4 linked regions of the Homo sapiens genome follow. The protein of the gene in region 3 interacts with the protein of the main gene of each other region in a pairwise test. Each region holds a gene or a part of one and is shown on either strand. Other genes may lie near its edges.

What was found.
Region 1: the proteins of CCDC13 (region 3) and RALBP1 interact in binary tests that used the Homo sapiens proteins (3 or more experiments, as listed by UniProt).
Region 2: the proteins of CCDC13 (region 3) and GMCL1 interact in binary tests that used the Homo sapiens proteins (3 or more experiments, as listed by UniProt).
Region 4: the proteins of CCDC13 (region 3) and KIAA1328 interact in binary tests that used the Homo sapiens proteins (3 or more experiments, as listed by UniProt).

The regions. Positions count from the first base shown.
Region 1 is NC_000018.10:9,520,502-9,527,528, reverse strand, and holds part of RALBP1 (ralA-binding protein 1), read right to left. Parts: intron 5,370-7,027; coding exon 5,020-5,369; intron 2,936-5,019; coding exon 2,774-2,935; intron 1,810-2,773; coding exon 1,678-1,809; intron 1-1,677. UniProt on the Homo sapiens protein: Multifunctional protein that functions as a downstream effector of RALA and RALB. As a GTPase-activating protein/GAP can inactivate CDC42 and RAC1 by stimulating their GTPase activity.
Region 2 is NC_000002.12:69,874,648-69,881,674, reverse strand, and holds the end of GMCL1 (germ cell-less protein-like 1), read right to left. Parts: intron 2,767-7,027; coding exon 2,671-2,766; 3' UTR 291-2,670; downstream 1-290. UniProt on the Homo sapiens protein: Possible function in spermatogenesis. Enhances the degradation of MDM2 and increases the amount of p53 probably by modulating the nucleocytoplasmic transport.
Region 3 is NC_000003.12:42,763,227-42,770,253, forward strand, and holds part of CCDC13 (coiled-coil domain-containing protein 13), read right to left. Parts: intron 1-7,027. UniProt on the Homo sapiens protein: Required for primary cilia formation and promotes the localization of the ciliopathy protein BBS4 to both centriolar satellites and cilia.
Region 4 is NC_000018.10:36,825,079-36,832,153, reverse strand, and holds the start of KIAA1328 (protein hinderin), read right to left. Parts: upstream 3,028-7,075; 5' UTR 3,016-3,027; coding exon 2,958-3,015; exon of another isoform or gene 1,002-2,957; intron 988-1,001; exon of another isoform or gene 1-987. Other genes in the region: TPGS2 (tubulin polyglutamylase complex subunit 2), read left to right, coding at 3,387-3,471. UniProt on the Homo sapiens protein: Competes with SMC1 for binding to SMC3. May affect the availability of SMC3 to engage in the formation of multimeric protein complexes.

The sequences.
Region 1 (7,027 bases), on a different chromosome or scaffold from region 3:
TTTTGTGAATTAATGAGCTGGCGTGAAAACATAGCATCGGGAAAATCGGTAAAGCAAAGTTAATCCATCCCTTCTTATATTGGTTCTGGCTGCTATACCATGATTCCTTTATTTAGGCAAGATGTAGAAGCAAGAGAAACAAAAGCCAAACCTCCATCAGCCCTGTCCTAGGTCAGTCAGGGGACTCTTCATTTAAAGGCTGACTGGCAATGCCATATGATTAACAATTACAATTTGCCCCTGAAGCCTGAGTGGTCCATCTCTAATACCTGATTCTAGGCTGAGACATGAAGGGAAAATTTTAACAGCAACACCAACACCAAAAACAAAAAACACGTAAAGGAAGCAAGAGATAGATAACCTAGTGAGCTAGGAAAAAGAAGGAAGAAAAATACGCAGAGGGCTTCTGCTACATTACATATCCTGGAGCGCACGTGTAAAAGTCCCATGAATGTGCCCCGTGTGACAAAGCTATCCTCCACATTAATACAAATCTCTAACCTCAAAGAAACAGAAGTATTCAGGTTGTCTTTGTCTCTTTAACACAACCACAACAGAGACCTACTATCATGTTCCCCAATTCAGGCAAGGGCTAACTAATGTTCCTTGGATGTGCTGTTTAGATGCTGCAGTTGATCTGCAATGTGGATTTTAAGGTGATCCAGAGATCTGGGATTTTACCATTGCTGTGGCTGGTACACTCACAGTCCCAGAACCAAGCAACACACACTAAACAAGAGGGAACTCAAAAGTCTGACTGGCATACCCTAAACTCATCAGGTATTGCAGGCCACTCTTATTATTATTACATAAATAGAATCTCTCCTGATCTTCAAGGCCTTCCAGGTGACCCTCATCACTACATTTCCAAAGAGCTGACTAATTCTAAATGCCTTAAATTCCCCAGCAGTCCCCAAAGGTGTGTCACCATCCAGCCTGTTTTTCATCCATAGAAAGCCCTGTTTACAGGTATAACCAAGCAGGAAATGACAAATTTTTTAGTAAAATCATTTTTAATTAAAACAAAACTTTCTAGGCCAGGCATGGTGGCTTATGCCTATAATCCTAGCACTTTGGGGGGTGGGAGGACTGCTTGAGCCCAGAAGTTTGAGACCAGTCTGGGCAGCATAACAAGACCCTATTTCTACAAACAATAAAAAATGAGCCGAGCATGGTGGCGCACACCTGTAGTCCCAGCTACTCAGGAGGCTGAGGTAGGAGGATCCCTTGAGCCCAGGAGGTCGAGGCTACAGTGAGCCATTATCGTGCCACTGCACTCCAGCCTGGGTGACAGAGCAAGATCCTGTCTCAAAAAAAAAAAAAAAAAAAAACTTTCTAGATTACACTGAAACATGTGACTGACACCAGGCTGCAATATCAATAATATAGGACTAGAAACATTTTAGTGAATAAATGTCCCACCAGAGAAGTTCACTTCAAGTGACATTATAATATTCTTAACAGAAAGAACTTGGGCTGGGGGTGGTGGCTCATGTCTGTAATCCCAGCACTCTGGGGGAGGCCGAGGTGGGAGGATTACTTGAGGCCAAGAGTTTGAGACCACCCTGGTCAACATCAAAAGAAAAAAGAAAGAAAGAAAAAAAAAGAGTACATAAAGTACATAAAAGACTCAAACACATTCTATTATAAACATTAGGTATCAAAATAATAACTCACCTGTCTTTTAGCTTCTCTCAGTTTTCTTTTGAGGGCTGTCAAAATTCTTTGTACTTCCCATAATCTTTCTTCTTTAGACAAATCCTTTATCCCACCCTGCAGATCTCGATGTAAACAATTCAAAAGAAACTCCTAGAAAGCAAATGCCACACACCTAGTTGCATTTCATATCCTCTTATCTTAAACTAACAACACGTGCAATTTCTAAAGATGAAGAATCAACTATTTTTCAATTATCCTTTATTTCATTAGAGTAAAATAATGGCACTAATTATTTTTTTGAAGATATGATTGAAAAATCATTCTTATTGTTTTGCCTATTAATTATTCACTAATTTGTATTGGTTCAATAATACTTAATCCACATCCCCATCTCCAATGTCATCATCATTAACTAGTAAGCATTGGGAGCTCAGGGCAGATACAAGGGAAGAAAAGCAAGCAGGGGTTTGATAAATTGCATGCAAATAAATAATCAAATGTAATTAACTTTCTTATTTAGTCTTGAATTACACACACACACACACACACACACACACGGCATTGTTACTTCCATCAAAATAGCACAGTAAAAAATCCCAGGATTTGGGCTCAAATCTTGGGTCTGTAATTAGTAATCATGTCACACAGGGTAAGTTACTTAACTTCCCTGAATTTTAATATTCTTATCTATAAAATATGGCTGATGACAGCAACCTTGTCAAGAAAAGGCAAACATCTTTAGACTATTTACAACGTGCCTGGCATGTTTCATATATTATCTCATTTGGGGTAATCTTCACATCAATCCTATAAGAGGATCCATTTTAAAGCAAGAACACCAGTGCTTAAGGTGGTTAAGAATTTGCCTAAAATCAGTTAACTAGATCAGAGCAAGAATTTAAAGCCAGGTGTTTTGATTCCAAAAACTATGCTCTTTCCACCATGGTATTCTGACTTATTTGGCATGAAACAGTACCAGATGGGAATTTCTGACTTCAGTGTGCCTAACATAGCTCCAGACACACAGAAAGTGTTCAGGAAACAAGAGCCCATCACCACTGGACTCCACAACAGCCAATGCAGAGGCAGGCTGTGGCAGGCAGGGTGCACACACCTGTCTCCTGATCTCCTCCTTGATGCCCGCCTGGGTCTCTGGCAGCGTGGGCATCGTGGCCATGTTAGACCATCGCAGAGGTTTCATCACTTGCTTTAGTACCACATTTCCAAAGAGTTCTTGCACATGTGTGAAAAACACATACAGGACTCGATTGCTGATCTAAGAAAAAAAGATTTACAAGAAAACCATTAAAACTATCATTCTATTTCACTTATTTGTGTCTATTACATAATATATCCTTTAATCCTGGACACATAAAGAAAATTCTACCCAGTAATGACAACACAGTCTTTGCTAGTTAATAGCCAATTTAAGAAGAAAATGGTAAAATATGAGTTAAATCATGTATTCAAGCACCAGAAAGATCTGAAGGGAAAAAAAGTCAAGAAAAGGATAGAGAAGTTGATGCCATCCATTTGTTTATTTTTTCTATCACAGTATTAACTGATTTAAACATCTTATTTTTTGTGTGTTTTTTGTTGTTGGTGGCGGTGGTGGTGCTTTTTTGAGATGGAGCCTCGCTCTGTAGCCCAGGCTAGAGTGCAGTGGCACAATCTCAGCTCACTGCAACCTCCACCTCACGGGTTCAAGCGATTTTCCTGCCTCAGCCTCCCCGGTAAGCTGGGATTACAGGCGTGTGCCACCATACCTGGCTGATTTTTTTGTATTTTCAGTAGAGACGGAGTTTCACCATGTTGGCCAGGCTGGGCTCGAACTGCTGACCTCAAATGATCTACCCACCTCAGCCTCCCAAAGTGCTGCGATTACAGGCGTGAGCCACCATGCCCGGCTAAAACATCTTATATTCTTTATTTTCAACTTACTTTGACATATTTTAACAGACGCAATGGAATGAATGAGGACCATGAGGGAAGTGGGAGCACCACAGTAGTAAAGCTGGGTTGAGGTTGAAAGCCCTCACTCCAGAAACAAATACCTGGACACAGCCAGCATTTAAGTATGGATGTTCATATGCTAGGAGGCCAGGGCATTAGGTTGGCTGAAAAGCTACTACAAGAAATTATTTCCTACCTAAAACTTACTCTTACAACACACTTGACTCTTCTATGATACAACCATCTCTATTATATTATAGTAATATTAAGTATCAATGTAATATTTACCAGATCCTGAAATCCTAATGATCAAACTAAAATCTGAGAAACATTTTGCTTTCAAAGCGTAATCAATGAGTAACAGAAGAATCTTTATTTTTTAGAGATAAAATCTTGCTCTGTCACCCAGAGAGGAGTACAGTGGCATGATCATAGCTCACTGCTGGGCTCAAGCAATCCTCCTACCTCAGCCTCCGAAGTAACTGGGACTACACATACATGCTACCACACCCAGCTAATTTTTAATTTTTATGTAGAGACAGGGTCTTGCTATGTTGCCTAGGCTGAACTCCTGGCCTCTCGCTATCCTCCTGCCACAGCCTCCTAAAGTGCTCGCATTAAAGGTGTGAGCCACCGCGCCTGACTGAAACGCTCTTTAGTAAATGAAAACACTCTCTAATAACAGTGACAGTGATTTATGGTGACTCAGAATACTGGCCAAAAAGAGGGCTTAAGATAATAAATATAACCTATCATCTCCCTTTTTATTGGCCTGAGTAAAATATCATTAACTGCAATTAAAAGAAAACATATACTCTATGACAGCACCAACTGAGCAGCAATAAAGGAAAGCCAAGTATGTATGTCGTAAAAAGATACCAATTAACACACTACCCAATTCCCTGAAGTTCCTTTTCAGATTCAGAGCCTATAACATGTCTCTCTAGGATCCATCCTTATGAATGAAATCCTCAGGCTAAATCTTTGACCAAACAATTAATGACAGGTCCCTTTGTGCCTGAGTTTGATGTGTGTCTGTGATCTAACGAAGCAATAATGCTATTGATTAAATAACTGGGATCTCTAAAATTCTACACACGAACTCTATAACTGTAGATGCCATGGGCTCCTCCTCCCCTAATGAAGGATCCTTGTCATCAGGTCTTGTTTATAAACCCACATCAAAGACTGTACCGCATTCAAATTACATCACTACAAGCTAAAGGGCAAGTATGTTATCTTATACATTGACACTGTCCAAATTATGAAAGGAAAAGACCCGTATTCAAGCTAATCCATTACCTATCTCCTCAAGTTCACTGCTTTACATGTGACTCAGCAATAGAAAATTACCCCAGTTCCCCAATGTCAGTACCAGAGGGTATATGTGTAGAGAAGACCATGTACCTGCACAGTTGGGCTGAGCACTATAGAAATGTTCTGTATATTCATTTTTGTTTCCAGTTCCTTTGCAATGACATGGTCCATGTGCACAATGAGCCAAGAAATCAGAAGATAGTTACATTCTGGCAGTTCTTTGAGTAAACGCTGGAATTCCTGCACTTTCTCAGTCTCCGTGGTCCTCCCACAAGCCTCTTCAAATCTGGGCATAAGCTCTTTGGTAAGCAAATTCTCTGGAAGGTCTCGCAAATACTGCTTCAGCAAACTGGCTACAGTGTTAGGCTCATAGTCTTCCAAGTTTGTAGACTCCTCCCGGTCATAGGCTGCTTTTAGCTCATCCACCTTTGATTTAATTCCTTAAAACATTCAAATTCAGAAGAGAGAAGATACTGAGAAAAGAAAATCAAACACACAAGTTTTCTTTACCATTATCCCCACCCTTGCTAAGGAGATGAGAACAGCAACCTGACCAATAACGAACCTCTTGTTATGAAATATTTATCTGCACAAAGGTCGTACAGTTCCTCTGTAAACACTAACATGTAAGACTACACTTGGCTGGGCGCAGTGGCTCACACCCATAATCCCAGCACTTTGGAAGGCTGAGGCGGGCAGATAGCTTGAGCCCAGGAATTCGAGACTAGCTGGACAACATGGTCAAAACCTATCTCTACAAAAAATACAAAAATTAGCTGGGCATGGTGGCGTGCGCCTGTGGTCCAAGTTCTTTGGGAGGCTGAGTTGGGAGGATCACTTGATCCTGGGAGGTTGAGTCTGCAGTGAGCCATAATTGCACCACTGGACTCCAGCCTGGGCAACAGAGTAAGACACTGTCTCAAAAAATAAAAAAAATAATTAAAAACAGGCCAGGCACCATGGATCACACCTGTAATCCCAGCACTTTGGGAGGCCAAGGCAGGAGGATTATTTGAGGTCAGGAGTCCAACACCAGCCTGGCTAACATGGCAAAAACCTGTCTCTACTAAAAATACAAAAATTAGCCAGGCGTGGTGGTGTGCGCCTGTAATCCCAGCTACTTGGGAGGCTGAGGCAGGAGAATCACTTGAACCTGGGAGGCAGAGGTTGCAGTGAGCCGAGATCACACCACTGCACTTCAGCTTGGGTGACAGAGCAAGACTCCATCTAAAAACAAAAAACAAAAAACAAACCCAAAAAACTAACTTCAAAAGTGAATTTAACCAAAAGTTAAATGATAATTGAAAAGCTCAACAGTCAGAAGTCAAAGCAACCATGGATATATTAAGCAAATATGCCCATTAATTCAGGAATTTGTTTTTAATGTAAAAACATTACACAGTGGCGCACACCTGTAATCCCAGTACTTTGGGAGGCCGAGGTAGGTGGATCACCTGAGGTAGGGAGTTCAAGACCAGCCTGGCCAACATGGTGAAACCCTGTCTCTACTAAAAATACAAAAATTAGCTGGGCATTGTGGCGGGTGCCTGTACTCCCAGCTACTCAGGAGGCTGAGGCAGGAGAATCGCTTGAACCCAGGAGGTGGAGGTTGCAGTGAGCCGAGGTCACACTACTGTATTCCAGCCTGGGTGAAAAGTGAAACTCTGTCTCAAAAAAATAAAAAAAAAGGTAAAAAGACAAAAATTAAACTACAATCCAAGTGTAAGTCTGGCTCTACACAGGCAGCCAGCTGCTTTTTCTAACAAGTCACAAGACTGACCACAAAAAAATGTGGCTTGGTGTACCTAAGTATGTTCCAAAAAGTTGTGGGTAAATTACTTTTTTATGTGTAAATATTGTACTGTAATTGCAAAGGGTGAATTAGCTACCCAAACAAACACTTTGAAAATTATTCTCCATTAAATCATCCCCATCTAATTTCTATTTTAAAGTTTGGATTATTTTAAGTATAACCTTAATCTGAACAGAGCTGGAACAAAAAAAATAAAGTATGGGTTTCTAAAATCGTTTTGCTTATTGAACAAAAGGAAACTAAAGCAAATGATTTGCAAACATTACATAAGATTTTAAGTCTTTA
Region 2 (7,027 bases), on a different chromosome or scaffold from region 3:
AAAACAAAACATAACAAAACAAAACAGTGACTACCACTGTTCTCCACATGGTTTTGCCTATCTTGCTAAGTTTCCATGCCAAACCATTTTTTTTTAAAGGAAAGGTATTTATATCCCTTCTTAATAACTTAGTGTGAAACTCTAGGACATATTCTCTTAAAGACCTCTTCCTTACTAATAGACAAACACAAATCATTCTTAAAATTAAATATTGTTTTCTAGCTCTAGCATAAAAAAATAGTAGAGGCTGTAAGACAAAAGCTGACAAAACACAAAGCTTTCACAAACCATGGTTTATACAATACTTTATCTTACACTATTAACACTTTATTGAAAATATTTCTATTGAAAAGAACTCTGGAAACACATAAAAATATTTGGTAAGAAAACAAAAGCACATCTTTACTACCAGTGTGAATTACTACCTGACAATTATCAACTTCTCAAATAAGAACATTAACCTACTTGTGATTGAAGAAAGAATTATCCTGTCTATGGATGACATAAGCAACTTGGCCAGGACAGAACCAATGGATGAAACCACATATAAATCCAATTTGGCCAGTTAACTTATGTAAGTGAAATGAAACAGTTAACTTTATTCATTAATATGATCAAAACATTATCTTTACTTCCAAGATCTGCAAAAACTTAATTATCCAAATAATTTAAGTTTGGAATTTATATATTTTTCAATACATAAAGGGTAAGGAAACTCTTATACAGTAATGAGACGGAAAGAAAACAACAGCTTCCCGTGAAAAAGACCTAATGTAGTCAAATATAAAAATAAGTACAGTAGCCTCTTTTTTTTTTTTTTTTTTTTTGAGACGGAGTCTCACTCTGTCGCCTAGGTTGGAGTGCAATGGCGCAATCTCCACTCACTGCAACCTCTGCCTCCTGGGTTCAAGTGATTCTCCTGCCTCAGCCTCCTGAGTAGCTGAGATGACAGGCGTGTGCCACCATGCCTGGCTAATTTTTATTTTGTGTATTTAATAGAGATGGGGTTTCACCATGTTGGTCATGGCTGATCTTAAACTCCTGACCTCAGATGATCTGCCTGCCTCGGCCTCCCAAAGTGCTGGGCTTACAAGTGTGAGCCACCACACCTGGCTGACACCCAGCTGAAATGTAACCTCTTGATAACAGCCAAATCACTGTATTAGAAACATTTAAATTCCAGCTCTGAGGGTCAAGGGTGAGGCATTTAAAAGGTTCCTTTAAGTTAAACCAAATGGATGAATTTTAAAAGAACAAAAGCAATTTATGAACCTATGGGCATATCATTAAAAAAGAAAAAAATTATTAATAAATTCCAAAAGTTAAAAGGAGTTGGGAAAAAAACCTAACTAGAAAGAAAAAATTTTGGTTTCAATTAAGGGGGATTTTTTGGTCCATTTTATGTAAGAGCTTACTCTTTTTCCAAATGGGCATTTATTATTTGCACAGATACATAAAAATGATTCCCATTTTAAAAACCATAATAAAAATATACATTAACCACAGAAGTACTTACTCTAACTGGAAAGAAAATGAACATGGCTATTTTCAAAACAGTAATAAACACAAAAGGTCAACATACATAAATCATGACAAGTGTACATCTCATTTTTGACAAAAATAAGTTCCATTTTTACATTAATGCTTCATCATCAGGCTCCATATTACATCCTCTGACCTTATTTACATTTACTATGAAATTTCTATTAGCATGTGTCACTCAAAGGCACTCAATTCAGAGGGTAAAAAGTCCTGAGCTTAAGTAGGAAACAAAGTTCCCAACTAAAATTTGAACATAAATAATTCTAAAGATCAGAGAATATTAAAATGTTTAAAACTATAATATCTGGTACATAAATAATTCAAAACCTAATAATAAAGGTGTACAGACTGTCAAAGAAAAGACCATGTAAGGCAAGAAATATCCTTGGAATCAAACTGATTTTTCCCTCATTCAAGATCATTTGAAGGTGCAAAGCTAACTTTCACTGTTCTTAAACTCCTAGGAAAGTCAAATTAAAAAAAATAGCAATGACAATGCTTAAGTTTTAAAAAAAGTTTATCAGCTTAGTCTCCAAAACCAGGAAGAAAATATTTAATGATTAAAAACAAGTATGACCTGGAAAGATATTAGACTAAAAGGAGGAATCACAATGAGCAGGTGAAAATGTTAAAGGAAAGCTTTCAATACACCAACTGAAAAAGGCATTTCTAATTGGCCAACCAAATTATTCTTTTAGATTATTTTAGCCAAATAAAAAGAAATTTACAGATGGATAACTGAGGTCCACTAACATAAGGTAGAAACAAAGTTTAAGCTAAAAATTAAATCTATATTTTGTTGCAGATAAATGTGAGATTTACCTACAGCAATTTTCTATTGATGCTAAATTAAAAGCATGAATTGACATCGTTCTAACAGAAATGGTTTGACAGATATTTTCTTGGCTTTAAAATGTTCTTACGCATATGCATAGAAATGCAATGAGGATAAGAATAATCTTCTGTATTGTCTGTACAGTTCATAAGGCCTTTGTCATTGTTAGTCACCTTCGATGTGAATATCAGTAGGGCCATTAAATTAAAGCTGGCCTAAAAAGTTTTCAAAGTGCTACTGTTTCCAACTGATGAAATCTTCAGTTTTCTGGATTTTCTGGGTGACGATTATTTTCAATTCTTTTTTTCTGGTGATATATACAAGAAGTTACAGCAGATATATAAAGGGAAGATCAGAAGCCTGCTGTCCAAGTTCATCACCACTTGTTCCTATAAGACAGATTTGTAGATTCAATGACAATTAGATAAAATAAAAACAAAAAACCAAACTGTTGAACTGAGTGAACCAAAGGAGATAGTGTCCTGAGTCTGAGATCCACAACTCCACTCTCCAAACTCCCACCCATTAGCTGTGTGACCTTGTCAAATGCAGCTTCCTCACTGTAAGATGGGGACAGTAAGAGTACCTGACTTAAAGGAGGATTACAAGAGATAATACACAGGGGGTTTTGCAAAGCCAGCTATCTATTAAGTACTCAATAATGGTAGTTATTTTCATTATTGCAAAAATTTCTATCAAATACTTACATATTTTGTCAACAGATACAATGTCTAGAAATACATAAACTTCTCACTGGGCTTCAATTTTTAAAAAAATTTATTTCCTTTTACAAAATTAATTAATTATTTTTAAAAATGAGATAGGGTCTTTCTATATTGCCCAAGCTGGCCTTGAACTCCTGGGCTCAAGAGATCTTCCTGCCTCATCCTCCCGCCTCAGCCTCCTGAGTAGCTGGGACTACAGGCAGGTGCCACTGTGCCTGGCTACTTGGCTTCAATTACTGATGGCCGTTGGGTACAGCAAATCACCCAGATGAAGGTCGGGAGTCATTATCATCATCAAAAAGCAGGGTTCCTACTATTGACATTTCCCACTGTCCCTATGACAAACATGTAATTTGTCTCCTGAAACATAAAATACATTATCATGGAAAAGCAATTTCAGGTTCAGTTACATCAACACACACAAGAATGCTCAGAACTCCCAGAGACAGGAGCTGACACTACACAAATATAACATCCCTGATGCTACAGATCTCTGTTTGGAACCTCATATATCCTTTACTAGAAGCATTTGGTAAATAGAATCAATCCTCAGAGTAAAAGAAGAAACACTAAAATGAGAATTCCTACGTTTTAAATGCCTGGGATATGCTCTCTGCAATAGTATGCATTAGTTACACTTTATTTATTTTGGATAAGATACTATTAAACACTGTTTAAATCCAAAGTTTTAATTTTTTACTGAGACATGTATTCCTGCATGAAGAGGAACTAAAACTAGAATATCTGTGTGACTGAAGCAGACTCACTAGACACAGCTTCTGTGTTGAGGGAACAAGAAGATAAATTTGAATAAAGAAGGTAGAGAGTACAAATGTCTCACACACACACACACACACACACACACAAACACACAATCTCTCTCTCTGTACGAGGGAAAGTGGTATTATAAAAAGACATCAGTGAACAAAATCAGGGGAGGCCATCACCTAGACTGTGCTAACAAGTGTCACCAGAGAGGAATTATGCCAAAGCATGGTTGGTCTTCAGATGCTTGAGACATCCTGAACTAGTCAAAATTTATATCAATAATCTGGGTGAAGGCACATTTACCAAATTTGTTGAGGACAAATGTTTTGATGATATGTATATCTGATGATAAAAATCAAGATTCTGTTCCATAACTAAAAGGCTCTGAGGAAGATTAGCCTTCTAGTATTTGAATACAGTTAAGATTGAGGCAGGGAAGGGTAGGTCAAAGGGCCAACTCTGGAGAAAGAAGGAAGGCACGTGGATATCACTTGGCTGAATGGATACACCAATTTTTGAATATTAAATTGTATTAATCCCCACTCTCCATTCCCAAACAGGATAGGTCGATCCGAGCTTCATCAAATCTGTTGTTTCACCTAAAGGTTCAATCTGCATCTACATTTGCATTGAAGTACCTTTATAGCAAAGTTCTATTTTCCTTATTCCATTGTGGATGGAATCTGTGGAGCCCACATATAGCAGCAGCAGAGCAGCAGCAACTTCCTAGGTCCCCATTTCTACTTCCAGACAATTAAATAAATTTCTGGGTATTTGTTGTTGTTGGTAGTGTTTTTTGTCTGTCTGTTTTTGTTTTGAGACAGGGTCTGACTCTGTCACCCAGGCTGGAGTGCGGTGGCATGATCATGGCTCATTGCAGCCTCAGCCTCCCAGGCTCAAGTGATCTTCCTGCCTCAGCTTCCAAGTAGGTGGTACCACAGGCACATGCCACCACGCCCGGCTAATTTTTCAATTTTTTGTATAGATAGGGTTTTGCTAAGTTGCCAGGGCTGGTCTTGAACTCCTGGTCTCAAGCAATCCTCTGGCCTTGGTCTCCCAAAGTGCTGGGATTACAGGCATGAGCTACCACGCCAAGCCTGCAATTTGGCTTTGATTCTCCATCCCAGCTTTTCAATGTCTCACCAGGTTACCTTTTTTGTCCATCTCTTAAATACCAGTGGTCCCTAGGGTTCTATCCTGTCATATTCTCTACACATTTCCTGTACATTATCTCATCCAATTATTATTTCTAGTTCAGGCATTACTTGTAAACTCCAAATCCATTATTCACCAGCCTATCAAATTTTCACCTTGATGCTCTCAAATTAAACATGCCCTAAACAGAATTCATCATCTCTTCACCATCACCAACACTATGTCATGTTCATTTTCCTTCCTATAATTCAAATCTCAGGTAAAACCACTACTGTAAATTAAATTGCTCAAATCAGAAAACCATCTGACATTTCCTCATGCACACACACAATTAAGAATCAAATTCTCAATTGCACCACTTTATTTCCAGAACCCATCAATATTTTCCTCTTCATTGCTACATTCTTTAAGGTTCTTATCACTTTTAATCTGAATTATAGCTATATAATCATAAATTGTTTTATTGCCATTATCATATCTTTAATCCTTCCTACACATTGCTGTCTGACGGAACCTTCTATAGTGAAAATCCATTTAGCATGGTCTTATAAGATGGACAGTTACAAAATAAATATACAAAAATCACTAACTTTCTTACATTATCAAAAACTATTAGAACAAATGATTCATTTCATATTAGCAACTGAAATGTAAAATACTGGCTGGGTGCGGTGGCTTACACCTGTAACCCCAGCACTTTGGGAGCCTGAGGTGGGCGGATCACGAGGTCAGGAGATCGAGACCATCTTGGCCAACAGAGTGAAACCCTGTCTCTACTAAAATACAAAAAAGCTGGGCGTGGTGGCATGTGCCTATAATCCCAGCTACTTGGGAGGCTGAGGCAGGGGAATCGCTTGAACCCGGGAGGTGGAGGTTGCAGTGAGCTGAGATCACGCCACTGCATTCCAGCCTGGCGACAGAACAAGACTCCGTTTCAAAAAAAAAAAAAGAAATGTAAAATACTAAGTGTTATACTTCCAGGAAATACACAGGAACAATATGGGAAAAACTACAAATTTTAGAGACAGACATAAGGGAAGACCTACGTAAATGTAGAAAATACCATATTCCAGAAAGGAAGACATCAATGGTCCACAAACTACTCTACATATTTAATCATATAAATTAAAATCCCCATAGGAATTTTTGCAAGGAAACTTGATAAAATGATCCTACATCCCATACAGGAGAATAATCATGCACAAAGAACTGAGAGATTTTTGAAAAAAAGAAAAATGAAGGTGGTTTTGCGTAACTAAATATTAAAATGCATTTTAAAGTTAGCCTAATTAAAACAATGCCTTGTCTTCATAACAAAGAAATCAATAAAACAAAAAGTCCAGAAATGAAAGCAAGTTTATAAGTATTTCATGTACAATAAGGCATTTCAAATACATTGATACATCCAGTACATTTCAGATATATCGTCAAATACTCCAAAGTAAAAAATTAAGCCATAAAAAGAACAGAAGAATATATAGATGACTATTTATATAATCCTAGTAAGATGGAGGCCTAAGGATAACACCAAAAAAAAGAAATCATAAAAGAAAAAGATAGATTGTTTTGAAGGTTGAAAAGACAAATGACAAAAATGTAAAAACTGTTTGGGCCTGGTGGCTCATGCCTGTAATCCCAGCACTTTGGGAGGCGGAGGCAGGTGGATCACTTGAGCCTAGGAATTCCAGACAAGCCCAGGCAACGTGGCAAAACCTCGTCTCTATAAAAAAATACAAAAAAGTTAGCTGGGCATGGTGGTGCGAGCCTGTAGTCTCAGCTACTTGTGAGGCTGAGGTGCGTGGAAAGGTTGGGCCCAGGAGGTGGAAGCTGCAGTGAGCCAAGATTGTACCATTGCACTCCAGCCTGAGTGACAGAGTGACAACCTGTCTCGGAAAAAAAAAAAAAAGTAAAAACTATAGAGTATCACAAATGTATTTTTAATATATAAAAGCTGTTAAAAATTAGCAAGAAAAAAATGAAATTTTAATAAAAAATTAAACAG
Region 3 (7,027 bases):
CTGGTACAAGAGTAGATTGCAGTCTGTTTAAATTCCTAGTCAGGTTACAGTTTACTACGTACAGAGAAACCTTTAGGCTGAACTTAGAATATATAAGAAGGCAGCTTTAGGCTACAGTTAGTTTAACACATCCCACAGACATTTTTGTTTGGCTCTTACAGAACACTATGTTAGGATTTGAATTTGTTGCCAACATTCAAAGAATTGTAGTTTCAATATCAGATTTCCAGTGTCAACAAAAACAGTCAAACTCTGTAAAATATTTGAAGAGATGTACTTTTTTTTTTTTTTTTTTTTAGATGAAGTCTCGCTCTGTCACCCAGGCTGGAGCGCAGTGGCACAATCTTGGCTCACTGCAACCTCTGCCTCCTGGGCTCAAGCAATTCTCCTGCCTCAGCCTTCTGAGTTGCTGGGACTACAGGCATGCACCACCACACCCAGATAATTTTTGTATGTTTTTGTAGAGACATGGTTTCACCATGTTGGCCAGGCTGGTCTTGAACTCCTGATCTCAAGTGATCCACCCACCTCAGCCTCCCAAAGTGCTGGGATCACAGGTGTGAGCCACTGCACCCAGTCTGAAGAGATTTATTCTGAGCCAAATGTGAGTGATCATGGCCTGTGACACAGCCCTCAGGAGATCCTGAGACCACGTGCCCAAGGTGGTCAGGGCACAGCTTGGTTTTATACATTTCAGGCAGACCTGAGACATCAATCAAATACATTTAAGATATATACCGATTTGGTCCAGAAAAGCAGGACAACTCCAAGGTTGGGAGGGGGGAGCTTCCAGGTGATAAGTAGATTTAAAATTTTTCTGATTGGTAATTGGTTAAAAGAGTTACTATAAATAGAAAGGAATATCTGGGTTAGAATAAAAGAGATAAAAGTTTTGATCATGCAAATGAAGCCTCCAGGTAGCAGGCTTCAGAGAGAATAGATTGTAAATGTTTCTTATCAGACTTAAGGTCTGTGTTGATGTTAAATGTTGGTCAACTTTTCCTGAATTCCAAAAGGGAGGAGGGTATAATGAGGCGTGTCCAACCCTTGCTTCCCATCAAGGCCTGAACTGGTCTTTCAGGTTAACTTTGGAGTGCCCTGGCTGAGAAGGAAGTCCATTCAGATGGATGGGGGGCCTCTGAATTTTATGTTTAGTTTACACCAGCTTCTTTTATAAAAGTTTACAGATCTGGCAATGCTGGGCCCATCGTCCCACACGGACAGCAGCTGCTATGCAGAGAGTTCCTTTGGTGCATAATAGGTTCTTTCCATTAAACCACTGTCCCTGCCACCTCCAGATGCTGCAGCTGGCACATCAGCTGCCCATTATCACTGCACATAAATGTTGTTCTTTCTCTTAAACCTGCTGGATTCACTTTTATTTCCCATCAGCCACAGCAGATGTTTTGGGTTTGTGGCTCCTGCTGTGGATTAAGCCCAGTGGCATCTCAGAGGCTGGCTTCAGCCACTCCTCTACCTGGGAGGCCTTCCTCCCAGGCCTCCCCATCCCAGCCCTTTACCTTCCCACTAACTCCCAGTTAGCCTCTAGGATTCCCCTCAGGGCACTCTGTGGACTCCCAGAATCCCTAGGGCACCCCTTGATCACTAAACTTAACCTCAGTGTATTATAATTATCTATTATTTTATTTACATTACTTCCCTTTACAAAGAGACCTCTTAAGGGCAGGGGTCCTAATACCTTATTCATTTGCTAAATCTCAACATCTTGCCCAGAACAGGCCTTCAACTGTCATTTGTAGAATTGTCACTGAATGAATGAACACAGTAACTTGTAAAGCTTTTCTCCTTTTCTACTCCCAATTTGCACTTGAAGTCACTGAGGAACTGGTACTCATTGAATGTACACTGTGCCCCAGGCAAATTACTTAACCTCTTTGCTTTCGTTTCCCATTTGTAAAATGGGACTCTGATACTTACGAACTTCACAGGGAGTTTGTGAGATTAAGTGGAAGAATGCATGGAAATAATTATCATTATCACTGTATGAAAAGTGGTGCTCTTGGCCCAACGGAGCCTCTGGGATAGACAGTAATGCCTGCACTGAGAGGACACCTGTGGTCCAGACCGGCCCCCAGAGTATTAGTATCTAATCTGTGCTATTCATGAGGCCAGTGGAGATTTGAAATTAATTATCTGGGCTGTGGCCAGGGTGTCTATTTTTATTTTTATTTTTTTGAGATGGAGTTTCACTCTCGTTGCCCAGGCTGGAGTGCAATGGCACGATCTCGGCTCACAGCAACCTCCATCTCCTGGGTTCAAGCGATTCTCCTGCCTCAGCCTCCCGAGTAGCTGGGACTACAGGCATGCACCACTACGCCCAGCTAACATTTTTGTATTTTTAAAGCTTCCCAGGTGAGCCTAACGTTCAGCTGGTTTGAGAATGAGAGGTGTTAAGCACTCTGAGAGGCTGTCTGGGGAGAGAGAAGCTGCAGGAGAGACAGGCATCTCAGTCAATTTGAAGCTGAATGCAGAAGAAATTCACCTGGGTGGGGAAGGGACGGTGCCTGAGTGGGGGGCAACGGGCTCTCCTGCCAGAACAGCATGTGCAGAGAATGTGATGAGTGTGGGGAACTATGAAAGGTTCAGAATGGCCAGAGGGCAGGGCACATTTGGGGAGGCACCAGAAGAAGGGTCTGATCTGCCCAGCTAAGGAGCCTGGACTTTATCCTGAGGCGCTGGAGATGTTCAGAGGGTGCACACAGGATCAGCTTTGCCTTCTGCAGAGCTGGAGGCAAAGGGCCTAGCTAGGAGGGGGTCTCTGGGAAGCCATGTGGGCCTAAATCAAAACTGTAGCAGTGGAGATGGAGGAGGGGGAAGAGGAATTGCTGCCAAATGGAAGGGACTGAAGGCAACTATGCAGAGAAGGAGAGGGGAGAAACCTAGGCGGTTTGGGTTTGAGTGACTGGGGAGACAGCAGGCCCTGACAGAGGAGCAGTTTTCCACGCTGCAGACAAGGTGGTGGACTTTGAGATGCTGGGTGGGCAGCTGGCTGGCTGAGATGCTGGGTGGGTCTGGGGTTCAGAAGGGAAGTCTGAGCTGGAGCCTCAGGTAGTTGAGACCTAGAGTATGAACAAAGCAGCATGAGGAGAAGGTGTAGAGTGAGGAGGTGGGAGAGAGGGAAGGAGAGGGAAGAGGAAGAAGAGACAGCTGGAAGCAAGTAACAGCCTGACGGGTTCATCTTGCCTGCTGTTCAGAAAACCAATGCACTAAAAACAGCGAGTTTTGCAGCAAAGAAAGAGTTTGATGGGCCAGTCAAGTGAAAGGAGGGGAGGTAATTCTCAGATCTTCCTCTCACTGCAGTGAGCCATGATTGCACCACTGCACTCCAGACCGGGGAAAAGAGCGAGATCCTGTCTCAAAGAAAAAAAAAAAAAAACAACCAACCAACCAAACAAACAAACTTCCTCTCCAAGAATATTAGCAAATTGAATCCAATGATGTATTTGAAAAATTATACCACATGACCAAATAGGAGTTACTTTAGGTATGCAAGGCTGGTTTAACATTAGAAAATCAATTAACATAAACCTATCACATCAACAGGCTAAAGGAGAAAAGTCACACAATCATATTAGTAGACACAGAAAAAGCATTTGACAAAATCCAATGCTCATTCATGATAAAAGCTCTAAGTAAACTAGGAATAGAGGGGAACTTCTTCAATTTGATTAAGAACATCTACAAAAAACATACAGCTACCACCATACTTAGCAGTGAGAAACTACACGCTTTACCCCTAAGACTGGGAACATGACAAGATGTCCCTTCTCTCTACTCTCTTTCAACATCATACTAGAAGTTCTACCTAATGGAATAAGCCAAGAAAAGGAAATAAAAGATATATATTTTGGAAAGGAAGAAATAAAATTGCCTTGGTTGCAGATGACTGATTGTCTATGCAGAAAATCTCAAAGAATCTATTAAAAAAAAAAAGAACAAAAAAACTCCTGGAACTTATAAGTGATTGCAGCAAGGTTGCAAGAAGTAAGGTTAATACACAGAAGTCAAATGTTTTCCCACATACTAGCAATAAGCAATGGAAAGCTCAAGTTAAAAATGCAATGCCATTTATATTAACACAAACATTGAAATACTTAGGTATAAATCTTACAAAATATGTGTAAGATCTATATTAGGAGAAATATAAAACTCTGGGAAAAGACTATAAACTATAAAACTCTGATAAAATCAAGAACTAAACAAATAGTTATCTCATGCACATGAATAGGAAGAATGAATATTGTTAAGATGTCAGTTCTTCCCAACTTGATCTATAGATTCAATGCAATTGCAATAAAGAAATCCCAGCAAATTACTGTATGGATATCGACAAATTGATTCCAAAGTTTATGTGGAGAGGCAAAAGATCCAGAATATCCAACACAATATTAAAAAAGAACAAAGGTGGAAAACTGACACTACCTGACCTTAAGACTTACTAGGCTAGGCGTGGTGGCTCACACCTGTAATCCCAGCACTTTGGGAGGCCGAGGCGGGTGGGTGGATCACCTGAGGTCAGGAGTTCAAGACCACCCTGGCAAATGTGGTAAAACCCCGTCTCTACTAAAAATACAAAAATTGCCAGGTGTGGTGGTGGGCACCTGTAATCCCAGCTACCTGGGAGGCTGAGGCAGGAGAATCGCTTGAACCCAGGAGGCAGAGGTTGCAGTGAGCTGAGATCGTGACATTGCACTCCAGCCTGGCCAACAGGAGCAAAACTCCATCTCAAAAAAAAAAAAAGACTTACTATAAAATGATAGTAATTAAGACAGTGTGGTATTGGTGAAGAAACAGACAAATGAATCAATGAAACCAAATAAAGAGCCCAGAAATAGATCCACATAAATAGAGTCAACTGATCCTTGACAAAGAAACAAAGGCAATGGTGCTGGAACAACGAATATCCATATGTAAAAAAGTGAATCTAGACACAGACCTCATCCCTGTCACAAATATTAACTCAAAATGGGTTATATACTGAAATGTAAACTGCAAAACTTCTAGAAGGTAATACAGGAGAAAATCTAGCTGACCTTGGGTTTGGCTATGAGTTTTCATATATAATACCAAAAGCATGATACATGAAACAAAAAAAATTGATAAATTCAACTTCATTAAAATTATAAACTTCTACTCTGTGAAAGATACTGTTAAGAAAATGAAAAGAGGCCGGGAATGGTGGCTCATGCCTGTAATCCCAGCACTTTAGGAGGCTGAGGCAGGCGGATCACCTGAGGTCAGGAGTTTGAGACCAGCCTGGCCAACATGGTGAAACCCTGTCTCTACTGAAAATAAAAAAATTAGCTGGGCATGTTGGTGTGCACCTGCAGTCCCAGCTACTCGGAAGGCTGAGGCAGGAGAATCGCTTGAACCCGGGAGGTGGAGGTTGCAGTAAGCTGAGATCACTCCACTGCACTCCAGCCTGGGCTACAGAGAAAGACTCAAAAAATAAAAAAAAATAAAAAACAAGAAAATGAAAGAAAAGAGAAGCCATAGAGACTGGAAGAAAACCTGCCAGACACATATTTGACAAAGGACTACATCCAACATATACAAAGAATTCTGATAACTTAATAATAAGAAAATACCCCAGTTAAAAAGTGGGCAAGGCCGGGCATGGTGGCTCATGCCTGTAATCCCAGCACTTTGGGAGGCTGAGGTGGGTGGATCACCTGAGGTTGGGAGTTCCAGACCAGTCTGGCCAACATGGTTAAACCCTGTGTCGACTAAAAATATAAAAATTAGCTGGGCGTGGTGGCAGGAGCCTGTAATCCCAGCTACTCAGGAGGCTGAGGCAGGAGAATTGCTTGAACCTGGGAGGTGGAGGTTGCAGTGAGCCGAGATCATGCCATTGCACTCCAGTCTGGGCAACAAGAGTGAAACGCCGTTTCAAAAAAAGAAAAAAAAGAAAAGTGGGCAAAAGATCTGAACAAACTCCTCAACAAAAAAGAAATATGGATGGCAAATAGACATATGAAAAGATGTTCAGCATCATATGTAATCAGGAAATTGCAAATTAAAACAAAAATGAGATACCATTACATACCTATTAGAATGGCTAGAATCCAAAACATTGACAACATCAAATGATGGCAAGAATGTGAAGCAACAAGAATTTCTATTTATTGCTGGTGGGGATGCAAAATGGAAAAGCCACTTTGCAAGACAATTGGGTAGTCTTTTTCAAAGCTAAACAGTCTTGCCATATGATCCAGTGATCATATTTACCTAAATGAGTTTAACAATATATCCACACAAAAACCTGCACATGAAATGTTCATAGTGAGAGGTGACAGCATGCTGGCAGCCCTCGCAGCCCTCGCTCACTCTGGGCACCTCCTCGGCCTTGGCGCCCACTCTGGCGGTGCTTGAGGAGCCCTTCAGCCTGCTGCTGCACTGTGGGAGACCCTCTCTGGGCTGGCCAAGGCCGGAGCTGGCTCCCTCAGCTTGCAGGCAGGTGTGGAGTGAGAGGTGCCGGTGAGAACTGGGGCTGCGCGCAGCGCTTGCCGGCCAGTGAGGGTTCTGGGTGGGTGTGGGCTCCGCAGGCCCACACTCCAAGCAGCCGGCTGGCCGCAAGCCCCTGGCAGTGAGGAGCTTAGCACCTGGGCCAGCAGCTGCTGTGCTCAATTTCTCACGGGGCCTTAGCTGCCTCCCCGCAGGGCAGGGCTGGGGACCGGCAGCCCGCCATGCCTGAGCCTCCCCCTGCCACCGTGGGCTCCTGCGCGCCCCAGCCTCCCCAACGAGCGCCACCCCCTGCTCCGCAGCACCTGGTCCCATCAAAAGCCCAAGGGCTGAGGAGTGCGGGCACACAGCGGGACTGGCCGGCACCTCCGCCTGGGGCCCTGGTGCAGGATCCACTGGGTGAACCTAGCTGGGCTCCTGAGTCTAGTGGGGACTTGGAGAACCTTTGTGTCTAGCTAAGGGATTGTGAGTGCACCAATCAGCACTCTGTATCTAGCTCAAGGTTTGTAAACACACCAATCAGCACCCTATGTCTAGCTCAGGG
Region 4 (7,075 bases), on a different chromosome or scaffold from region 3:
TTAAGAACCCAAATATTTACCTCCTTCAAATCTAGAATTTCCCAACAAATGTATATTTTATGGGGAAGTCAAACAGACACATTATATACCAAATGTATAGTGGGCCTACTAGTGGGTCATTTCTAGATTATTTATAATACCTAAAACAATGTACATGCTATATAAATAGTAGTTAAATTGTACAGTTTAATTTGTATTTTTTTGTGTGCTATTTCTTTTTTTTCTCAAATATTTTCCATCCACATTTGAATGAATCAGCAGATACAGAGGGCTAACTGTAATTAGAAACCCAGGCAGAAGTGGTAGAGAGGAAGATGCACCTCTATCCCAGACCTCCAGGATTTGAAGGAAATAAGTTCAGTACTGCCCATTCTACTCTAATCTGCTGAGTTTTGCCAGCAATACATGTATATGTAATTATTATCAACCACAGAGACTTTCTGGGCTAATATATTATTTTTACCACAACATACAGTCTTTGTTTCCATTTGAAAACTCAACAGCAGAGATTATACTGCAATGTTTTGACCAGGTCACTTGCAGTTCATATTTTTTAATATCAAGTCCATGATATTGCTAATGGTAATACACTTGAGTGCATTTAAGCAGTCAAATTTAGGTACTGCTGAAACACTAACTCATTCTGACATTACTAGGAACTGTAATGAAGGACAAAGGCAACTTAAACTGAAGGAGCATATTTTGCTGGAAGATTTAACCCATAACATGACAACACCACACACTCATTGTTTACAGATGAGGTACTAAAACGTTCCTTGTGCAAAACAGCACTGCTGAATCATACTGTGCAGGAGATGTATAACTCACAACAACAACAATAAAAAAAAAAGGTGCCATTGAGTCACAGATGATCTGTCCTCTCATGATGGAAACATCAAGGACTAAGAAATCTCTCCATCACATTTCTCTAAATGTTTAGGTGAAGTATTGAAAATCTTTTTTCAATAGTGTGAAAAGAATACCAGATTATAGGTACTTACTTTTTGGTCTTTTTCTATTGAAAATTCTACTATAAAGGCTCTAGGGTGGTCTGGGAAATAATCAATATGACAAAGGAATCAAGATGCAAAGACATGTAACTAAATCAAATGATTAATAACTATCATTATGCTTTTCAGCAAATATTCAGTAACAAATTTACATTTGACATTGCTTACAGTGACATTCTCTATGGAGATTTAAAATGAAAATATCTGAGGCTCGATGTTAACTGGTCATTACGTGGAATAGTCTGAGGGGAAAGGTGACACTAGCAACTTTGCAATTCCTTTCATACATCTGAATTAGATCTTATAGGATATAATCGCCACCATTTTTCCCCTGTACAATTTCAATTCCTCACTATCTATGAGAGGACGAATATTTTACATTAAATGTTGGGAGTCAGAATACAAGAGATAACGGAGTATATATGACTTCTACATAAAATAGGGGGTGATATAACTACATGAGTAAGTGAAAGTACTGGGTGCGAAGACCAAGAGCTTAGGTTCAGTCCATATATCTATTAATACACTTATTCAGTCCCATTGCAATAGCTTGTCCCCCCCCCAAACCATTGATTCTATATTTGAACAGTACCATAGGATGCTATAAGCTAATAACCTTCAAGTATCTCCTCCATCACAAAATTATGTCAATGCAGAAGCAGTGTTTCTTGAGAAAAGACTTATCCCAATTTCCTAACTTCCTAATTCAGCCCAGTTGTCCACAGTGCACATATTCTCTTCTGAAAGGTAAAGGAAAAAATATTTAATTTGCACACTGCACTAGTATGCTTTCATCCACAGTGTATGTACATGATTTCATTTGCTTTTCACCAACCTATCAGAGACAAATGGTAATTATGTCTAGTAAGTGCAAACACTAAACACGAGCAGCACAGAATACAAACATATCCCTCTCTCTACACATGACACTAATCCTAGTAACTCAACAAAGGAGTTGATAACACAGTTTTGTAAGTTTCACTGGGAGCTAAGAAGAATGCCCAGTGATTCTGCCAAAGGTAACAGCAACGCCTCAATTAATGCCATCACCAATCCTAGCAAACACAAAAAGAGCTGCCTCTGCAAGCACTCAGTAACACAGATTGCCGTCCCTCTTTCAAGTAACCCCTCTAAGGAACGTGAAGTAAATTATCAGGACCAAAGCTCAAGCGAGAAGAGTCTACCTACTCCAAGGAAAGAAACACTCCTGTCACACAAACATCTCATCACTGCTGCTGAACTGGTAATACTACCACTGGACTAAAAAGTTCCACTGCTTCTCCACCTCACAACGATCCAAGAACTTCAATGACTGCCAGTGACCCGCACTCCACAAGTAAGTCAACAATACTTCCAGGCACAATGATTCCCATCTTACGCAGTAACCAGCACCACCAGACCACATCCCAGTAACCAAGCTCCACACCTCTCCTAAAACCCCAGTATTAAAATACATCATCACTGGAGGGCCTTTTAAGTCCGAAAGGTCCTGACTTGCTCCTAGCAATGCAGACTAAAGACAATCCTAAATCAAAACAAAAAGGCTCCCTGTCCAGCCAACACCGACTCCTCCCTCAACTTCGAGCTAGCTCCGCACACTCAAGTCAGCCTGGGGGCACTCTGACAGGGTGGGCAGAGGGACCTCGGAGGGCCATCTCAGCCCTGGACTGAGCCTGGACTCAAGGCTATCTTTCTCGAGCTCACCGGTAGTGAGCGCTGGGAAGCATCTGAGCCGTGTCCCCACACCTGCAGACAGTACCAGTCTCTCGGCCACCTAACACCCAAGCAAGGGGAGAGCCCAGCACCTAGACTGGGGCCGAGCAGCACGTCCCCATCCCCGGGGTTAGTTCGGAGCTTCTCCTCCGCTCTCGGACTGCCACGCGACGGCTCGCCCCTCGCCGTCCCGTGGAGGGCGCCGGCGCCCCCTGTCAGGCGGGCAAAGGATACAGTCCCGGCTCCAGAACGCCGCGGCACTGGGGCGGGAGGGGCCCGCCACGTCCGCCATCTTGAAACAACCGCCACTCGGGGCGTCGCGCCTGGGCCGCCACGCCTCGGCCTGCAGGCTCGGTCCCCATTGGCCGCACCACGCAGAGGCCCGCCCCCGCCTGCGCGGCCGGCCCCTGCGGGGCGAGAGGGTGGGGGCGAAGGGGAAGCTACGTCCCGGAGGTGCGGTGTGGGGCACCGGGCGGGGCCGCGGGAACCGGCGCCCCACGGAGCTGCTGCTGTCAGACCAACCCCGGGCCCCCATCATCACTGCGCCGCGCTTTCAGGCGCCGAGAACTACCGTTCCCGGCATGCCATGAAATTGGCCTCGGCGCTGAGGCGGGGTCCGGCCCTCCACCCGCTCCCGCCGCGCGCGAATCGCGGTCGCGAGCCATGGAGGAGGAGGCATCGTCCCCGGGGCTGGGCTGCAGCAAGCCGCACCTGGAGAAGCTGACCCTGGGCATCACGCGCATCCTAGGTGAGGAAAGGGGGCACGGTGCCGAGAGGGTGTGGAGGAGAAGGAAGGAGGAGCGGAGGGATGAGGTGCGGGGTGAGCGGTGCGACGCTGGCCCCAGAACAGGAGTGGACATCGCTGCTGGGACTTCCGTTGTTACAGAGGAAAGTGGGGGACCTGGGTTTGTGATTAGGCCTTGAAAGTGTTTGCCAGGAGTGTTCGGAGGCAGAGCTGGGAAGCCTGAAGTTTCCCCCACTCACCGCCAACCAAGGTCCCACCCAGGAAGGACGGGCAGAGACGTGCAAAGGGAACACAGCAAGCACCTGACGGTTGGGAAGTTGGATCTCCCCCTAGGAGGCATTCTCAGCCAGGGCATTATCCCCGAAACCCAAGACCTTTCTCTGGGGGAAGTAATGCACCCGACCTCCCAGGGCGACAACTACGTCGGGTCTGAAAGGAATCCAACCTTGCACCACTGAATGACTCAGAGTTTTTCTTTTATCGAACATTTCTTTGTTTGCTTGCTTGTTTGTATTTTGAGACAGAGTTTTGCTCTTGTTGCCCAGGCTGGAGTGCAATGGCGCGATCTCGGCTCACTGCAACCTGCGCCTCCTGGGTTCAAGCAATTCTCCTGCCTCGCCCAGCTATTTTTTTGTATTTTTAGTAGAGACAGGGTTCCACCATGTTGGCCAGGCTGGTCTCGAACTCCTGACCTCAGGTGATCCACCCGCCTCGACCTCCCAAAGTGCTGGAATTACAGGCGTGAGCCACCGCGCCTGGCCTATCAAACGTTTCTTTAGTACTCACCACTATGTTAGACGTGAGGTTAAAAATATGAAAAAGACACAGTTCTGTGAAAAAAATAAACAAATGAGGTCACTAGGAGTGTGAAAAGAGGTCAGTAATCTGTTACTCAGAGATGTCACAGAGGAGGGGACTGATCTTACCAGGGAAGTTAAAGAACATGTCACAGAGGAGATGATGCTAGATTTTGAAAGACATATAGGAGTTAGCCAGAAAACTAAGGAGGAGAAAGGTCTTTTAAGAAGGCTGAAAAGCATGCTTCAGTGCCTTCCCATCACAATTATAATAAAATCCAAATGTCTGTACCATGACCCACAAGTCCCTGTAAGATCTGCTCTCATCTCTTTCTGACTTTGTTTCCACTCTTGCCCACATGGCCTTCTAGCTGTACCTTAAACACACTAAGCGGGTTCCTGCTTCAGGGCTTTTGCAGTTTGCTAGTCCTTGCACCTGGAATTATCTTTCTCTGAATGTCTCGCTTCTTCAGGTCATTCAGATCTCTGATCAAATGTCATTATTTCAGAGAAACCTTCCCTGAATATAGTTCGAATAACCGCCGTCTTTCTTGCTCTCTCTTTCCTTACCCTGCTTTTTCTTTTATTCTTATAGCACTTTCACTACTTGAAATTATGTATTTGTTTGGTTGATTTTTAAAATTTGTGTCTCTTTTAATAGAAGTCCAAGACCAAGTGTGATTTAGGAATGAGTGGTTTTAACATATGAAAATCAATTAATAGCTGGGCATGGTGGCCCATGTCTTTAGTTCCAGCTACTGGGGAGGCTGTGGTGGGAGGGTTATTAGAGCCCAGTTCAAGTCCAGCTGGACAACATAGCAAGACCCTGTCACTAAAAAAAAAGAAACTTAAAAAAAATCAATTAATATAATACAACTTACTAATAGAATAAGACAAAAACTGCATAATCATCTTAATAAAAAAAGCATTTGACAAAATCTAACCTTTCTTGATTAAAAAAAACTCAACAAACTAGAAATAGGATGGGATAGAGATAGAATTTCCTCAACCTGATGAAGGACATCTATGAAAAACCCACATCTAACATCATATGTAATGGTGAAAGACTGGCAGCTTTCCCCTTAAAATCAGGAACAAAAATTGTATTAGGGTTCCCCAAGATCACACCAGATTCAATGATTTGACGCAAGGATTACAGGACTCAGGAGATAGTCCTACTCATGGCTATGATTCATTACAACAAAAGGATTTTGGCAGCCCGATTGGCAGACCTTTCTGAGGATTATTGTCTCGGGCCTGCTATGTTCACTCTTTTCTGCATGGCAAGAATTCCACTTTTATCACTTCTCTTCAACATTGTACTGGAGTTTCTAGCTAGGGCAATTAGGCAAGAAAATGAAATAAAGACATCCAATTGAAAAGGAAGAAGGTAAGCTATCTGTTTGCAGATGACATGATCTTGTATATAAAAAATCCTAAGGAATCCACACACACACACACACACACACACACACACACACACAGCCTATACACCAGCAATGAACAATCCAAAAATAAAACTAAGAACAATTCAATTTACAATAGTATTGAAAAGAATAAAATGTAGCTGGCACAGTGGCTCACACCTGTAATCCCAACACTGGGAGGCCAAGGTGAGAGGATTGCTTGAGACCAGGAGTTGCAGACCAGCCTGGGCAACATAGCCTTTATGAAATATTTTAAAATTAGCCATGTGTGGTGGTGCATGCCTTAGTCCTAGCTACTCAGGAGGCTGAGATAGGAGGATTGCTTGAGCCCAGGAGTTCGAGGCTACAGTGACCTGTGATCACACCACAGCACTCCAGCCCGGGCAACAAGAGTGAGACCCTATCTCAAAAAAAATAAAAGAATAAAATAGGAATAAATTAACACAAGATGTCCATGACTTATGTACTGAAAATTACATAAGACTGTGGAAAGAAATTAAAGAAGACCAAAATAAATGAGAAGACATACCATGTTTATGGATTGGAAGAGTTAATATTGTTAAAATCTGTTACTCCCCAAATTGATCTACAAATCTCACATCTCCAGTTCCCATCAAAATCTCAACTGTCTCTTTTGTAGAAATCAGGAAGCTAATTTAATCCTAAAATATAATATAGAAATGCAAGAGACCCAGAGTAGCCAAGATAAACTTTTCTTTCCAAAACAGGAAAAAAGTTCCTCTTACTCACATTTCCCTATACTATATTTGAGATGATGGAAAAGTTCTGGTGATGGTTGTACAACAGTGTGAATGTACTTTATGCCACTTAACTGTACACTTAAAATTGACTAAAATGATGATTTTATGTTATGTGTATTTTAATACAATTTAAAAAATTTAAAGCCACAGTTGTCTTCAGAGTGGTAGTGGCATAAAACTAGAAATGTAGATCAATGAAATAAGATTGAGAGTCCAAAAATAAACATCATATTTATGATTCATTGATTTTTTTTTTTTTTTTTTTTTTGGAGACGGAGTCTCGCTCTGTCGCCCAGGCTGGAGTGCAGTGGTGTGCTCTTCACTCGCTGCAAGCTCCGCCTCCCGGGTTCTAGCCATTCTCCTGCCTCATCCTCCCGGGCAGCTGGGACTCCAGGCGCCCACCACCACGCCTGGCTAATTTTTTGTATTTTTAGTAGAGACAGGGTTTCACCATGTTAGCCAGGATGGTCTCGATCTCCTGACCTCATGATCCACCTGCCTCGGCCTCCCAAAGTGCTGGGATTACAGGTGTGAGCCACCGTGCCCGGCCTGATTCATTGATTTTTGACAAATATGTTAAGACTTCTCAATGGGAAAAAATAGTTTTTCAACAAATGGTTCT